2 separate regions of the Homo sapiens genome follow, and region 2 is linked to region 1. Evidence: fine-mapped expression QTL. Tissue or cell type: whole blood. Region 1 holds a variant in brackets; the other region holds the start of a gene. All regions are shown on one strand. Distances are between the middles of the regions.

Region 1 (8,178 bases):
TCAAGCATTTTATTTCTGAGGCTGAGAAGTGACTTGTCAATTTGCTGGACTGGATTTTTATAAAATTCGCCCATTCACCAGCACCAACTGTGCGTCCTTGGTTCTGCCTTCCTGTTCAGACACCGCGCCTGCTTTCTGAGTAACTGCCTGCCGGAGCCATGCAGGTACCCCCCCTCCACTCAGCAGGCCCGACAATCCTACCTCAAAGCTCATGCTCTTGGTCTGCAAGGCTGCTTGGTCCGCTGTCTCTGCAGATGTGGCCGGCAAGGCCAGCTGCCCCGTCTCCAGGAGCTGCTCGGTGCTGTGTTGCAGTCTCTGCTGCGGAGCCTGGGAGCTATCTGCTTCATGGAAGTCTAGGTCTTGCCTCTTCCTTGTCATCTCACCAAGCGGTTTCTGGGTCTCCTCCTCCCATCCCAGAGCCCTGTCCAGAGCTCTTGGTGGTGACACACAAGACCTGGGACCCTGTGTCCTTGCCCGCACCTCTGCCTCTGTCTCCCATATCCCTGCAGCTTCATCCTTAGCCATAGCTCTGGGTGGCCTTTGCTTGGAGCATGGAGACGATCCCTAAAGATTGAGGATGAAGAGGAGCCACCACTTTCCTGGGGCCAAGGAAGCCATCAGCTTTGGGAAGTGTCTAGCTCTCTTCTGAAAAAAAAACAGGCCTACACCCTGCCCCCAGAATGAGAGTGGGCTAGGCAGGGCTGCCTGGTGACAGCAGCTTCTCACAGGGGAGCCCTGGGGAAGGCTGTGGAGCCTCCACCATCACCACAGCCCAGGTCACCAGGTGGCCCCAGCTCTGCAGAAGAATCGCCCATCATTGGAGCACAAGTTGCCTGGGGCTACCCTGAACCTAACCCCTTTGAGGGAGCAGCATCCAGGTCAGGAGAGAAGTGGAAAGTGCAGGAGGGTAATGCCCTCAAATCCGGTGGCCTCTTTCAGAAAAAAGTTCCCTGAAGTCCAGAGAGGTGCAGCCAGGACTCCCTCCTCCCCACTGCCACCCTGAGCTTGGGGGCTGGGATTCTCCCTTTTCTGACTCCTCCAGGAGCCCAGAAGCAATACGGCCGATGCCAGGGACAGCATCCAGCTCTCCTTCACAGACACCTCTCCTGTCTTCAGCACAAAACACCTTCAATGTTCTGACTTCAAAGAGAACGACAGGTCCGTGCCACACACTTGTGTTTTTGAGGGATCAGAAAAGTGAAGAAGGAACTTATCAATTCCTCATGGCCAGGAAGGTCCCGGGTTTCAGAGTAGAAATGACAGACAGGTCATGGAATTCTCATCCACCATCGAATTCCATAACACGTTACATCATGGTGGCACATTTGTACATACATATAAATGATATCAAGATGAGGCTTTTGTTGGGCTGGCTGAGGAGTAACTTGGTGTAAATCTATCAAGCAGTTTCAGTGAAAAAGGAATTCAAAGTAGTTTAAAAATGTCGAGTTCCATTGCATTGTAAATAGTGCCTCTGTAATGTGGTTCTGCAGTTGTTCTTTGCTAGTGAGCAAGCTTGGTCAAAGTGTATGCCTTTTCCTTTTAAAATTAATCTCTTCCGAAAATATCCACTAGCACCTCACTGCATACATAGCATCCCAGCTCCTAATTCAAAGCAGGGGAAGGTATTTCCCCAAAGCCTGCTTTTCCTCTCTCTGTTCTCCTTGGGAAAATAATGATTCCAATTAAAGAGGACACCAGTAATACTGACCCACAAGGTAACTGACCTAAACACTATAAAACTGTATATATTTCCAGGCTGCATCTTCAGCCTGATATGTACTTTGTAGTTGCAACAGCGCCCTAGGTGCCCTATGGCCCACCAAGTTTGAGGAGGGTGGTGCTTTCCGGATTGAGCCTGGGCAGGCTCTGTGGAGCTCACCAAGAGAGCTGGGGGCAGGCCCACCCTCCTCTTTGCGCCCTTTCTCTCCCTCTTGGTGCCCCTGCCCTCCGCCCCACCACAGCACTCTCAGGAAAGGATCAGAATGCAGGATCTTTGTGTATTTCTTCCAGGGATATTTGCATTTAAGCCTTAATTCTCATTGCAAGCGAAAGGCTTGGTCCCCCTGGGAAGGCGGGTTTCGGCACCGGTGGGCAGGTGGTTCAGTGTCAAGGAGGCTGCTGCTGGTCCCATGGCCACCTGCTGGCTTTGAGGTAGTGAGGGAGGGTCAATCCTTAGGGGGAGTCAACATGTGAATGCTAAAGAACACTGCTGCACAGCCCGTGGGGTGGCGCCAGGGTTTCTCAACCTCTACTGACATTTTGCGATAGGTTCTGTATGCCGTAGGATGTTTAGCAACATCCCTGGTCTCTACCCATCATCTGCCAGTAGCAACCCCCAAGTTAGGTGTGACAACCAAAAGTATCTGTCGACATTGCTAGGTATCTCCTGGGGGCCTCCACAAGTTGAGAACCACCAGGTTATGCCAGTGGTTTGTCATGCATGGATCTGTAGAGGGACTGTGGCGCTCCGGCTGCTTTGTTCCATAGAAAGCCTGTATGTGACAAAGCTGCCAGCCTTTATCTTGATACCCAAGCCCAGGATTTTCCATGTGTCTTCAGGGGGCAGGTAGGGGAAAATGGGGTGAGCCACCTCCAACAGATGCCAACCTGTTGGGTCTTGAATTTTCACTCACTGAAGATGCCCCCTGCCCGCTCCCCACTTCCTAGAAAGCAAAACTCGTTACCTTTGTTTTCCTTGGCCACATTTTACTGGAAGCAACAGGAACTTCTTAATGGGTTTGTGGCCCTCAATTGGTTTTTAAAAAAATCTAACAGATCTTATTGGCAAATATTCAAGATGGTGATGCTGGAAAATTTCAGGACTTTTCTTTTGCAAGTGAGCCGGTAGCTGTGTTTGTTGACCACATTCTTTGGCAGTTCCTCCCAGAAGATCAAAGGATCCTGCAGCTTTAACCTAATATCTAGGCTGTAAAAATATGAGGGCAGGTTTCGGGCAGGATGTATTGATCAGACACCAAGTTCAGCCCTCGGTTACTTCCCTCTTTTAACCTGGCTTTAATAGTGATTCATGGTATGAGTGGGGGCCAATCTCTTATCCTTTCTGTGCCTCAGTATCCCCACCTGAAATGAGACTAGTCATACTAACCTACCTCCTCTGATGTATTGTGAGGATTATACAATAACATTTTTAAAGAAAAAAAGTGCAGTCTTTCATCTCTGGCATCTAAGCTAATGATTCCCATTCAGTGACTCAAACCTGT[G/T]GGGGGCGTTCCAGTGTTCTCTGACCAGTGTCTTCCATCCAAGCCTCCTTGTGACCAGGGCAAGGAGCTGCCTGGCCTCCAGTGGGTAAAATAGACCTTTAAGACAGGTTTCCTATGACCATAGAAAGTAACACCCCATATGTTTCCATTCCCGGCGAGGCCTGTTTGAATGGCGCTCTGTGTGAGTGCTATGAACAGGCTACCTGTCAGCAGTCTCACTGCGAGGCCTCAAGGCCTCTGTGAGCAGAAGCCCCTTTAAACCAAGGAAGGACACTAACCCAGGCCTCTGCCTTCTTTGTTACCTAAGTTCTGGTATCTAAGGGGTCTCTCATCTCACAGCTTGCCTCCTTTGTTTCGAGGGGTCTCTGCAGTGTGAATGGGTTTGAAATCCAGTGTGGATAGCACGAAGAGATGCAACTGAGCCGAAGTTTTGAAGGCTGGTTGGGCTAGTGGGTCATCATGTCACTTTCAGATGACTGATAACCGCTGGGACTGCTGGGGCTTCACCAGCACGAGCTATGCAGGTTGGGGGAGGCCCTGGCTTTTTCAATGATTGACGTTGACATCAGTCAGGAGCTGGGAGTTGAGACCTCCAGGGAAGTCTCGTCCGGATCCATCGCTCTTCTCTCAAGGAGCACAGTCCTGGGAAAGGCCTAGGGACCTGTGGGCCGGTGATGCGGGCACTGCAGACCAGGCCAGGCCCTCGGGTAAAGCTCTGAGGAGAGGCCAAAACCAGGCTTCAGGTTCGGGAAGGTGACTGCTTGCAACTGCAGTAGCAGGAACATGTCAGGTGCTTACTGGGTGAGACCCAGCCGGGGAAGCCTCTCCAACTCCTCCTAGCCCTGGAAACCAGACACCCAGAGCCCCAGGCTTTCTCGGCACCCAGAAGAAGTGGGGAGCGGGCAAAGCAGAAAACATTCAATGCATGATGTAGGATTGCTGCGTTGGCACTAAGCTGTTGTATTAAGCATGAGAGGTGTTTGTTTAACGTTGGCAAAGGGATTTAACAAGAAACAAAAAGCTTCGCGTCCTTGTTTTGACCGTCGACAGAAGTCCAATTTTCTTGCCTTTCTTTATCCCCATTTCTCCTCCCTCCCCTTCCCCCATCACATCCACTTTCGGTCACTCGTTGTTGGTATTTGGTGGCAGCTCTTGGTCCTATTGCTGTGGATGTTCCACTGAAAACACGGGGGGTAGCGGGGAGTGGTAAGGAAAGCAACTTTTTTCTAATTTTTGTATTGGTATCCACAAGCGTTTGTATTTTTTGAATTGCAAACACTGTGTTTTCTGGTCTTTGGGGGTTAGTTGAACTTTCTGTATTACCTTTTGGAAAACCTGAGTTTTACCACAGTCTTAAGCAGATTTGAAATAAATTCTTTTGACACTGCCAACAACAGAAAGACAAGATGTGGTCTGTAATTCCTGCTCCGTGGTCAGGTCTGCCTTTTTCCCAACTGGCCCTGACTGCCCAGCAGACAGGGCAGAGGCTACAGGAGGGGAGGCCACACGGTCTCTTCCCCCAGTGGGGCTGGGCGTTACTAAGTAGCAGGGTCAATGTGGTTCTGCTTCGCGTGCCCAGGAAATCTCAGGGTGATTACATATGACTCTAAACTAGGCTGGGTGCTGTGGCTCACACCTGTAATCCCAGAACTTTGGGAGGCCAAGGCAGGCAGATCACTTGAGGCCAGGAGTTTGAGACCAGCCTGGGCAACATGGTGAAACTCCGTCTCTACCAAAAATACAAAAATTAGCCAGCCGTGGTGGTGCACCTGTAGTCCCAGCTACTCAGGAGGCTGAGGAGGGAGGATCGCTGGCGCCCTGGAGGTCAAGGCTGCAGTGAGCCATGATTGTGCCACTGCATTCCAGCCTGCGTGACAGAGCAAGACCCTGTGTTAAAAATTAAAAAAATAGCCACGCAGGGTGGCTCACACCTGTAATCTCAGCACTTTGGGAGGCTGAGGCGGGTAGATCACCTGAGGTCAGGAGTTCGAGACCAGCCTGGCCAACATGGTGAAACCCCGTCTCTACTAAAACAATACAAAAATTAGCCGGGTGTGGGGGCGCATGCCTGTAATCCCAGCTACTTGGGAGCTGAGGCAGGAGAATTGCTTGAACCCAAGAGGCGGAGGTTGCAGTGAGCCGAAATCGTGCCATTGCACTCCAGCCTGGGCAACAAGAGCTAAACTCCCTCTCAAAAAATATAAAAATAAAAAATAAAATAAAATAAAATAAAATAAAAAATAAAACGGAAGGCCCGACCACAAACAGCAGGAAGGTCATAAAATTCATTTTTACAAGAGGGAATAGGGCTGGAGATACCTAACAGTTACCATGTGGTTAAGGTCGATCCATGAGTGCAGAGTAGATCATGGGTTCCACGTAGAGATCTGCGGAAAACATCCCAATGAACCCATGAGCATCAAGGAGACTCACCTGCCCCTTGAGCTACACAGACCAAGGCCAGACATGCCTGACCTGAACTCTGTCCTTTGCTGCTTTCTCACCTCATGATCCTCAAGAGCAGCTGTCTCACATGGCCCCCGACAGCCCCTAACACCAGTGACCTATGGGATTACCGAATGGGCTCAGCTGAGTAGGAGGCAGATGCAGAGATTAGACAGCAAATGTTTCTTAGGGCGAGCTCTTGGGATCAAAATTCATGGAGGCCCAGGGAAGGAAGCAGGATTGGATGGAGGGAGATATGGAGCTGCGCAGAACCAATAAAGGCCTCAGCCTGCCACCACACCCGGCTAATTTTTTGTATTTTTAGTAGAGACAGGGTTTCACCGTGTTAGCCAGGATGGTCTCGATCTCCTGACCTCGTGATCCGCCCGCCTTGGCCTCCCAAAGTGCTGGGATTACAGGCGTGAGCCACCGCACCCGGCCTACAAAACATCTTTTAAATTAGCTGGGCGTGGTGGCACATGCCTTTAGTCCCAACTACTCTGGAGGCTGAGGCAAGAGAATCACTTGAGCCCAAGAGTTCGAGGCCACATTGAGTTATGATCGTGCTGGGGCACTACAGCCTGGGTGACAGATCAAGGCCTTGTCTCTAAAAAACTGAAAAAACAGGCCGAGCGTGGTGGCTCATGTCTGTAATCCCAGCACTTTGGGAGGCTGAGGCAGGCAGATTGCCTGAGCTCAGGAGTTCAAGACCAGCCTGGGCAACATGGTGAAACCCTGTCTCTACTAAAATACAAAAAATTGGCTGGGCGTGGCAGCGTGCGCCTGTTGTCCCAGCTACTCGGGAGGCTGAGGCAGGAGAATTGCTTGAACCCAGGAGGTGGAGGTTGCAGTGAGCTGAGATCGTGCCATTGCACTCCATCCTGGGTGACAGAGTGAGACTCCGTCTCACAAAAAAAAAAAAATTGAAAAAACAGAAATTTTTAAAAGCCCAAATTGTCACCATCATCGAAGACCTTTTTAAATGTGCTACAAGCTTTGAGAAGTTGCTGTCACTTTAAGCAAGGGCAATATCATTAAAAACATGTATATGGCTGCAAAGGTGATGACAACTCTGATAGAAATAACATTCACTTGAATGTGGGCACAAAAGTATGAGTTAAAACCATCTGTTACTTAACAGTCACAGGCACATATACTACAAACCTATTTTATTTATATAACTTCTTATGAAGTAGATTTTGTACACATGGTAGGCTAAAAATTAAAACTGCTTTTCCACAAAACTGATAAATTACTAGATTCTTGGTTCTTTCATGATATCATAACATTAAATCATTAAAAATATAAGGCAATTTAATGTAAACTACTAGCATTTACAAAACAGTAAAGTTATAAAAAACTGTATTACAAGCAAATGCACCAAATACCAGTGAACATGAAACAGGAGTGAAGTTTGCTGGAGAACATTAAAAATCACTTTTCAGTGGGTTCACTTCACATTCATGCTGCACTGGGCCTGACACGTTCAGCACCATGAAGCAGACACTTCGGCAACTAGAAATGTTACTTCTGTTTGACTTTTTTTCTAAAATGAAAAAGCAGTCTGTGAAATGCGTGTTAAGAACGATCTATCTAGAGTCGCACAGGGTCCAGGGCCGCTGCAGTTGACTCAGTTGTTCCCATCCTCGTTTTATTTGACAAAGTACTTCATTTGGCCACTCTGGAAGAATTTATTTTCTTGATATCAACTGGGCTCAGAATCAGTGTTCCATTTTTGAATTTTCCAACCTGTCCAATCCGTCCATTTGACAAAATACTGGGAGCGGACTTCTTTTTGGATTTCCTACATTTAAAGTAAGAGAAAGGTACTATAAATAGTCAAGCTTACCAACAAGCATCACAGTACCACCAACCAGGCCACTGCAGTCTGGCCTGCAAACTCCTGGTCGCCTGCCATGCACACCCCCCACCCCATACGCCTTCCTGTGGTCCCTGAAACATGCTACTGCCTTCCTGCCTCAGGGCCCTTGCACTGGTTTCTTCTGCAAGGAATGTTCTGCTACCAGCTCTTTCCAGGCTGCCCCTCTTCTTTGTTCAGTTCTCAGCTCCGATGTCACCTCCTCAGACTAATTTCCCAGCTCACCTTCTCCCTGTGGTTTTCCTTCACAATGCTCTCTTTCAGCCTCTCTACAATACTTGCCAGTACCTGATATCATCTTACTTATCCATTTGTATGTTTTGGGGTGTTTCTCTCCCTACAATGAAGCTCCTCAAGGGCAGGGATATCTTTAGTGTGATTACAGCTGTACACCAATACCTAAGACACCCACATGCCTGGCACAAAGAGGCATTCAACAGATACAGATCGGTGGCCAGAACAAATGACCATTTTACAGCATGTACAAGTGCACTAGGAGCCCAAGAAAACAGGCTAAGACAAAAAGAGTCCATTCTGAAACAGTAACTCAAAGACAGAGAAAAAGGCATTTGAACAAAAGCTAACAAACAAGTATAAAGCAACAAAGTCAACATCCCTTATTCATAATTA
Region 2 (8,178 bases), 21 kb after region 1:
AGACAAAGGTTTGCAGGACGTGGGGGATGTTACAGAAATGGAATAGCAATGAATTTGTCAAAGCCATTATGATATTCTTGTGAATAGATAAATTAAAAACATTTGGGGCCAGGCGCAGTGGCTCACGCCTGTAGTCCCAGCATTTGGGGAAGCCAAGGCGGGCAGATCACGAGGTCGGGAGATCAAGACCATCCTGGCTAACATGGTGAAACCCTGACTCTACTAAAAATACAAAAAACTAGCCAGGCGTGGTGGCAGGCACCTGTAGTCCCAGTTACTTGGGAGGCTGAGGCAGAAGAATGGCATGAACCTGGGAGGTGGAGCTTGCAATGAGCTAAGATCGTGCCACTGCACTCCAGCCTGGGCAACAGAACGAGACTCCGTCTCAAAAAAAAAAAAAATTAAAAACATTTGGAGGAGCAACCACACCTCCCTTGGGGACTGAATTTTAGGTGAGATTTACAAGCTCACTCTGAAAAAGATTACTGCTCAGAAAAATCAAATTGCTTTTCCACCAGCATTGCTTTTCCTCGAGAGCAAGAATTTCTATACATTTGGTTCACTGCTATATCCCAGTGCCTACAACTGTGGCTAGCACATAACAGGAATGCCAGAAAGAGTTGCTGTAAGAGTTAACTCAGCAGGCCTGTGTTTACCAAACCCTGCACATTCCCAAGAAAGTCCTATTTTCATGACTGGCAGTTGGCTGCCTCCTGAGAATTGAGCAATTAGAATATTCTGCCTGATCAGAGTGTTTTTGCATACCTGAGGTCTTGAGCCACTGCTGTACCAAGTTTTCCCAGACAGTTTATACTAGCAATGTGATTGATGGTGAATACCTGCTTTTCACTGGAGGTCTAGAACTTGAATAACTAAGGTCAGTCTGTAGGCCTACATGACTGATAAGGGCTATATGCTGAGTCTTGGGTCCTGTGAGTCCTTTTGGCAAATCTGCAGGCCTGAGGATAGTCAGGCATTCCTGCCACAGTCTAAAGAGCTATTCACCTAATACTACAATACCAGGGGGTTCACCACGTATATATAAGCTAACCAACTCATTACCTTTGTGTTCTTGTTATGATCTGGCGTCAATTTTCTTTTTTTATTGCTGTGAAATTCTACCACTTCTACTTGTTCCCTATTGTTCTTTAGGGAAGAGGGAGGAACTGCAGCAGCAAGGATCTCTGGTCCTGTGGGGGTCCCAGAAGGAGCACAATGCCGCTCTTCTCTAAGTTCCTTGAAGAAGCTCGAAGCGCTCTTCCTCTGGCCTCTTATGAGAGAACCAGGTAGGGGAGATGGCTCTGCTGCCAAGGCCGCTGAAGCCATCACATCTCTCTTCTTGTTTTCCCTTTTCTTTATGATCTTCTTCTGTTCTGTTTCACCTTCTGTACCTCCTGTTTGTTCAAACACAAGAAGGAAAATAAATATTTTCAGTCTTAGCTATCATCAGTATCAAATCCTACGAATGTATTTGTACATATTCCAGGGCTATATGCACCTAGAAGCACACACAAAGAAATAAACTATTTGTTTTCTTTCAAATAAGTGTATTTGCAAAATGCAGAGAATCCAAAATGTAGTCATCTTTTCCTAGGTAACTATGTCTTTGACCCTTATTAGCACAATCACTTTAGTCTCCACTTTGGTTCCTACTCAAAGTGTCATCACAGCAATAGTCCCCAGGGCTGGTAATCCCAATTGGCTTTATACTAAAAATATCAGGCACTGCAGCCACTGTTTCTTTTTAACACTTTCTGGGTTACAGGAACATGGAATAGTCTTCCTATTTTCTTTCACAGTTAGGAATTAAGATGAACCTAAGACAACTGGCTCAATTTGAATGCCTTTGTTTTCTATTAATTCCTCTTTCTATATTTCACTTGTTGAAGCTCTGACCAGTCACCTGAAAGTTCTAACCAGAATCCTAGGCATCCTTACTCACATGTATTACAAATACCACAGAGCTCTCTAAATTACCAGCTGCTGATTTATGCTTGCTACTATTTGCTTAATCTTTTATACAATAAACATTTAAGAGCCAACTAAACTTTGGCATTAAGGATATAAAAATGAATAGACACATTCAATGCCTTCAGAGCTCCTACCATGATTTCCAGCCTGTGTTGACATGAACTATATTATTTTGCAGAATAGTCTTTTCCTCTAGATTTTAAACTTCTCAAGGTCAGAGACTAAGTCTTCTCTGTCCTCCAATATGTCCAAGGGCACAGAAATGCTAGTTAATACAAGCATGGGGTCTGGGGCTAGAATCAGAACCCAGGCTCTGCAAAAATTACCAGTCAGACAACCTGCATCAGGTTTCATGAACTTCTAGTACTTGTTTCTACATCTGCAATCATGGATTTATGACAGTGTCTATTTCATGAAGTTGAAAATTAAATGAGCAAATACACGAAAAGCATGTGCTATATGGCAAGTTCTCAACAGTTTTAACTATTATTCCTACTGTTTAGGTGAACTTAGAATTTTGAGCAGTCATTCCAAAATAAAAATAGCTTTTAAAATATCACGCTGTAAATTTAAGAAATGTGTGTTGTCCTGAAATCTAATGATTTTCTTTGGTGCATGTGCAAAGGGTGTCACCTTCTCCCGGGAAAGCTCTTCAGAGTATGAGGCACTGTCTTCCTACTGACATGCCATGCGACTTTAATAGGCTCTTTTATTTTCCTTTTCCCCCATCAAGACAAAGAACGGAGAGTAAAAGATCAGCGCACTTGTTTAAAAAAAAAAAAGTCGTGAAAAGGACAACTCGCCAAGGACTATGATGTCTCTGGAGAGGGACACACAAGGATGAAGCTGGTGTATTATCCAACAGGCCCGAGGCCCCAGAGCGAAATGACACCATCGCACCAGGGTCAGGCAGGTCTTGGGGGTGGCATGGGGAAAGGGGACTTCCCAGGGCTCAAGAAAACGTGGAAAAGCGGGCTACTTTTAAATCGGAAAGCCTTGGTGCTTCCTACAAGCAAGTAGGATGGTCCCCACACTTGGGGACGAGTTGGAAGGTTTGATGAATAACTCAGCAGAGCCCGGTCGAGGGGTGACTTCCGATGGAGAAATGTGTTCGCTACTGGAACCAGGTGGGACGAAGGGTGCTTGACATGCAAGAACCTTTAGCCTCAAAGCAGAGGCCAACCCAGGACGGGCAACACAGGAGACCCACGTTCCTCAAATCTGTTCTCCACGTGGGCTCCTGGGACCCCGCACTCACCAAAGTCGTAAAGGTTCTGGAGCAGAGCGTCAAGAAGTGTCGGAGAACTGGGAGGCGTGGAGGACCCCGGCCCTTGCTCCTGCGACATTGTGGGGTCAGCCGAGGAATCAACCCTCATTCTGCCGCGCTGCACCCCCGCTTCCGGGTTCCGCGACTGCGCGCATGCGCTGCAGGGCCCTGCGCGGCTTCCGTCCTGGCTGAGATGGCGGCGCCCGGGATCCTGTGTAGCGGCTGCAGAGGGTGCCGCCGCCCTAGGCGAAGTAGGGCCGTCCTGAGCGAAAGAACCGCCCCCAGCAGGAGCACCACCACGGCTTAGCAAAGAATCCCAGACCCCGCCCGGGAAGGCAGCCGCACCATGGAGTCTTCCAGTTCATCTAACTCTTATTTCTCCGTTGGCCCAACCAGTCCCAGCGCTGTCGTGCTCCTCTACTCGGTAGGCGCCCAGGGAAAAGAGGCCCAGAGCGGAGCCGCGCGAAATAGTACCCCTTTCTCCCAGTCCCTATTCCTCCGGCCCACCACCCTTGCCCAAAAGAGCTGGCCCCTAGGCTCCCGAGGAGGGGTTAGTTGGTTGGATTGGTTTCCAGGACAACAGTGTATCGCTGTGTGTCTGTGTGTGCATGCTTTTGGAAGTTTCTACGGATTATGGTTCCTTTGGTTCCTTTCCACTTTTTCCTTCTCTTTCTTTCTATCAGGCCCTGGGGCCTTCAGAAAGCTCCTGGACACGAGAATGAGGAATGAGAATTGGAGTCTCCCCATCTCTAGCGAGGGCATGTCGAGCTACCTTTTGGGCAAACCTGAGAAACTTGCGGGTTTGACCCGCCCTGAGATAGCCTGTGGCTCCGCACCCCGCCCTATGCTGCTGTTATATTCCTGGGAGTAGAGCACTTGGCTTGTATGTGGGAATAGAGTTTTAAACACTTCAGGAAAATTTAGAACTTCTAGACATTTTTATTGCCTGTTCTTGTCTTCCAGTCATTATTGTACCTTTTCCACAAATCATTTTGGAGGACAGCCAGCGCCACCCAGCTTCTCTCCCGCTTGTCTTTTTTTCCTCCAACCCCCTCTTCCTCTCTTGGTTTTAACGGGTCTTTTTGGCTGGCAGATGTTGGTCACCCACGATTTTCATGAAGAAATTATGAGATGGGAGCTTTATAGCCTTCAGGATTGCACAGACCTGGGGCAACTGGTTTGGTTTTTGTTTGTTTCTTGTTGTTTTTAACCACTAAATTAGTTTTTAGCTACTTTAGGAGAAAATGAAAGAATTCATTTTAAAAGCATATTAGCATATCCTGGTGATTACTGTCCAATTTTGGCTTAAATGTAGTGTTCATTTGTGCAGAAAGGTCAAAACAGGGATAACACAGCAGAGCAAGATAAACACCCCAGTTTTGAAAGAGAATATATGGGTTCCTTCAAATTGAGACACCAATATTCTTTGGAACATGGAGAAACTTCTGTTCCCTCTCTATCAAGACCTTTCGGTTTCTGATTGCTAACTGCCTATAAGCCTTATTATTTAGATATATCTCTTCATTGATCTTATCTTCCCCACAGTTCTGTGGTGGATATCAACTTTGTTTTCTGACTCTGCTACTCCAGAGCAGGCACGAAGGGAAGAGGGTTGCTGTGCAGATCCAGCTTTTAACATGTAGCTTTTTAAGCTCCCAACTGGTTTGTGAATTGGTTGGAATTTTCCTTTTGTACATTAAAGGAAGGAGTTGGTTTTGTTTGTTTGTTTGTTTGTTTTACTTCCCCTTTACCAACGGTTCTTTAATAAGACTTGAGTCCACTTTTTCATGTGAAAAACTATGGCAGTTGTATCTGAGCATTCTGTAGTTCTGATGCTGGACAGCAACCCACTCTTTACTGGTAGTTCTCACTACTGTTTTGTGACTGGATAACCTTTACTTCCACGGTAACCTTACTTTTTCTTAGTACTTCAGGCTGTTTTTATTTCCCCAGCTACGCTGTTATTGTGTAATATTCTGATCTAAAAGTAGCACTTTAGAAGCGTAGAAGATACTGCTGATTGCAGCAAACATTAGGAATATATACAGTATCCTACTCATTATTCTCAGTTTCCAAGATATAGAAGTTACAGATGCAGGCTCTGCCTTTAAGGGCACAAAAAGTCATAAAAGTAAACAAACAATCACAGTTAAGTATGGTAAGGGCAATGATTGAAGCATGCACAGCGTGTTGTGGGAGAGACAAGAAGGGGCACCTGACCAGTTTGGGAACTTGGAGAAGGTTTCTAAGAAAAGGTGATATCTAAGCTGATCTTCCTTTTTTGTTTTTGTTTTTGTTTTTGTTTTGTTTTGGAGACAGCCTTGCTCTGTTGCCAGGCTGGAGAACAGTGGCTCGATCTTGGTTCACTGCAACCTCCATCTCCGGGGCTCAAGCGATTCTCCTGCCTCAGCCTCCCGAGTAGCTGGGATTTTAGGCACACGCCACCCCGCCCTGCTAATGTTTGTATTTTTAGTAAAGACAAGGTCTCACCGTGTTGGCCAGGCCGGTCTTGAACTCCTGACCTCAAGTGATCTACTCACCTCCCAAAGTGCTGGAATTACAGGCATGAGCCACTGTGCCTGGCATGAGCTGAGTTTTTGAGCTGTGAATGGCAGATGAGGGAGAGGAAAACTGTCCTAGATGTTGATGTAAAAAAAACTACTCCCTTGCATATTTGGGGTTAGAATTAGTTAGATTTGGGTGGAAGAAAGGAGACATGAGAAACAAAGTAAGGAAGTAGGCAGATATTTCCTAAAGAAATTTTATGTGTCGTGTTTACATATCCTTAGGGATAAAATCTTAACTTTATGGGAGATTTTAATCTTACATCTATGTGTGTGTGTGTGTATACACATATATATATAAATATATGTGTGTATATGTATTTTTTTTTTGACATGGTGTCTCACTCTGTCACCCAGGCTGGAGTGTAATGGCACAATCTTGGCTCACTGCAACCTCCACCTCCAGGGTTCAAGAGATTCTCCTGTCTCAGCATCCCAAGTAGCTGGGATTACAGTTGCCTGCCACCACACCCGGCTAATTTTTGTATTTTTAGTAGAGTCGGGGTTTCACCATGTCGGCCAGGCTGGTGTCGAACTCCCGGTCTCAAGTGATCCACCTGCCTTGGCCTTCCAAAGTACATTTATATTTTTGAAAGTCTGAGAAGACTATAGGTTTCTGGTGTGATTATCTGTATAGGTAACCTGTTTTGCCTAAGTAGAGACTGTAGGAAGAGAATCAGGTTGGGTAGGGAATCTGATGCATAAAAGTGGAGATCAGTTAGAATGCTATTGCAGTAATCCAGAGAAGTAATGAAGCAGTAACAGTGAGCCCAGGAAGAAGGGAAATTGATGAATTTATGTGATATTTAGGACAGTAAATCATCATCCTTTGGAACCATTTGAATGTGGTGGCTAAGGAAAATAGCATAGTCTGAAGTTCACTGTTGGGTTTCTATGATTTGGCAACTGGGCAGATGATGATGCCTTTCATTGATAAGAAATATGGGGAGAGGAGCAGGTTTGGTCAGGGTAATAGAATTCAGTTTGGGGTGTGTTCAGTTTGTGATGTAAGAGAGAAATATAATGATTTTTAACTTGTGGATTATCATGTTATGAGCCAGATACATTCCATAGTGTTTGGAAGAGATCCAAGTAGGGTTAGAAATATGGTGCCAGAGCAAGAGAGGGGGTCTGGCCTAAATGTATAGATTTTTCAGCATGTAGGTTGTATCTATAGCATTCGGTGAGCCTGAAATCATTCAGTGAGACCCTAGAATGAAAAGAAGACTGAGGATGGGTAACCACTGGTGTGCCATAATCCAGATGATGACTTCCTGTTAAAGTCCAAGTGAAAGATGCAGATGCCTTACTACAGTGTCCCACAAGACTGTACATGATCTCTTAACTGCTATTGCTCTGACTTTACTAATCTTCTTGTTCACTGGGCTTTAGCCACCCTGGCCTTCTGTTTCTCAGACAGTAAAATGCTCTTCCCTCGAATGCTCATAGTCCCTTCTGTGTGGCATGCTATGTTTTCTCAGAAGTTTTATTGCTGGCTCTTTGTATTATTGAGGTCCCAACTCAAATATCACTTCCTCAGAGAGGCCTTCCACAACCATTGAATCTAAAACAGCTATCCAATCACTATTCCTCATTTTCCTCATTAGTTGCCTAATTTTCTTTTTTTGTTGTTGTTAATTTTTGGCTTTTTAATTAATTATTTTTAGAGCCAGGATCTTGCTCTGTCACCTAGAGTGGAGTGCAGTGGCATAGTCATAGCTCACTGTGACCTCCAACTCTTGAGCTCAAGTGATCCTCCCTCCTCAGCCTCCCAGTAGCTAGGACTGTAGGCGCATACCACCACGCCTGACTGGTTTTTTTTTTTATTTTGTGTAGAGACAGGGCCTCACTATGTTGCCAACCTGGTCTCAAACTTCTGGTCTCAAACGATTGATCCTCTTGCCTTGGCCTCCCAGATCACTGGGATTACAGAGTGAGCCACCATGCCCTGACCGCAGCTTTATTTTCCTTATATTCTCTTTCCAGTGGTGTGCTACAGCAGTCTTCTATTGGCTTGCAAGAGCTGATTGTTAAATTTTCATGAAGTTTGTGAGCCCATTCTTAAAACACAGCCATTATTAAAAATTAAATAGCCGGGCGCTGTGGCTTACGCCTGTAATCCCAGCACTTTGGGAGGCCAAAGCAGGCGGATCACCTGAGGTCGGGAGCTCGCGACCAGCCTGACCAACATCGAGAAACCCCGTCTCTACTAAAAACACAAAATTAGCTGGGCATGGTGGCACATGCCTGTAATCCCAGCTACTCGGGAGGCTGAGGCAGGAGAATCGCTTGAACCCGGGAGGTGGAAGTTGCAGTGAGCCGAGATTGCGCCATTGCACTCCAGCCTGGGCAACAAGAGTGAAACTCTGTCTCAAA

What was found. PIP is the estimated chance that this variant, and not a neighbour inherited with it, causes the effect.
Region 2: it holds the start of FSAF1, and the variant in region 1 is fine-mapped to the expression of FSAF1 in whole blood (INTERVAL, PIP above 0.99).

Annotation. Positions count from the first base shown.
Region 1 is chr1:231,216,942-231,225,119 of GRCh38, forward strand. It overlaps TRIM67 (tripartite motif containing 67), which reads left to right. Exons shown (of 10, transcript NM_001004342.5): 10 at 1-4,624. It overlaps FSAF1 (40S small subunit processome assembly factor 1), which reads right to left. Exons shown (of 7, transcript NM_152379.4): 7 at 6,824-7,473. The coding sequence ends at 7,338. Among named protein-coding and RNA genes, the nearest start is that of FSAF1, 20 kb to the right of the region's middle. RefSeq lists enhancers at 236-735, 3,886-4,386. The variant G/T (reference allele first, on the strand shown) is at 3,225.
Region 2 is chr1:231,237,795-231,245,972 of GRCh38, forward strand. FSAF1 (40S small subunit processome assembly factor 1) reads right to left here and starts at 3,381. Exons shown (of 7, transcript NM_152379.4): 1 at 3,230-3,381; 2 at 1,063-1,394. The coding sequence starts at 3,347. It overlaps GNPAT (glyceronephosphate O-acyltransferase), which reads left to right and starts at 3,418. Exons shown (of 16, transcript NM_014236.4): 1 at 3,418-3,662. The coding sequence starts at 3,585. RefSeq lists enhancers at 3,111-3,450, 3,431-4,320.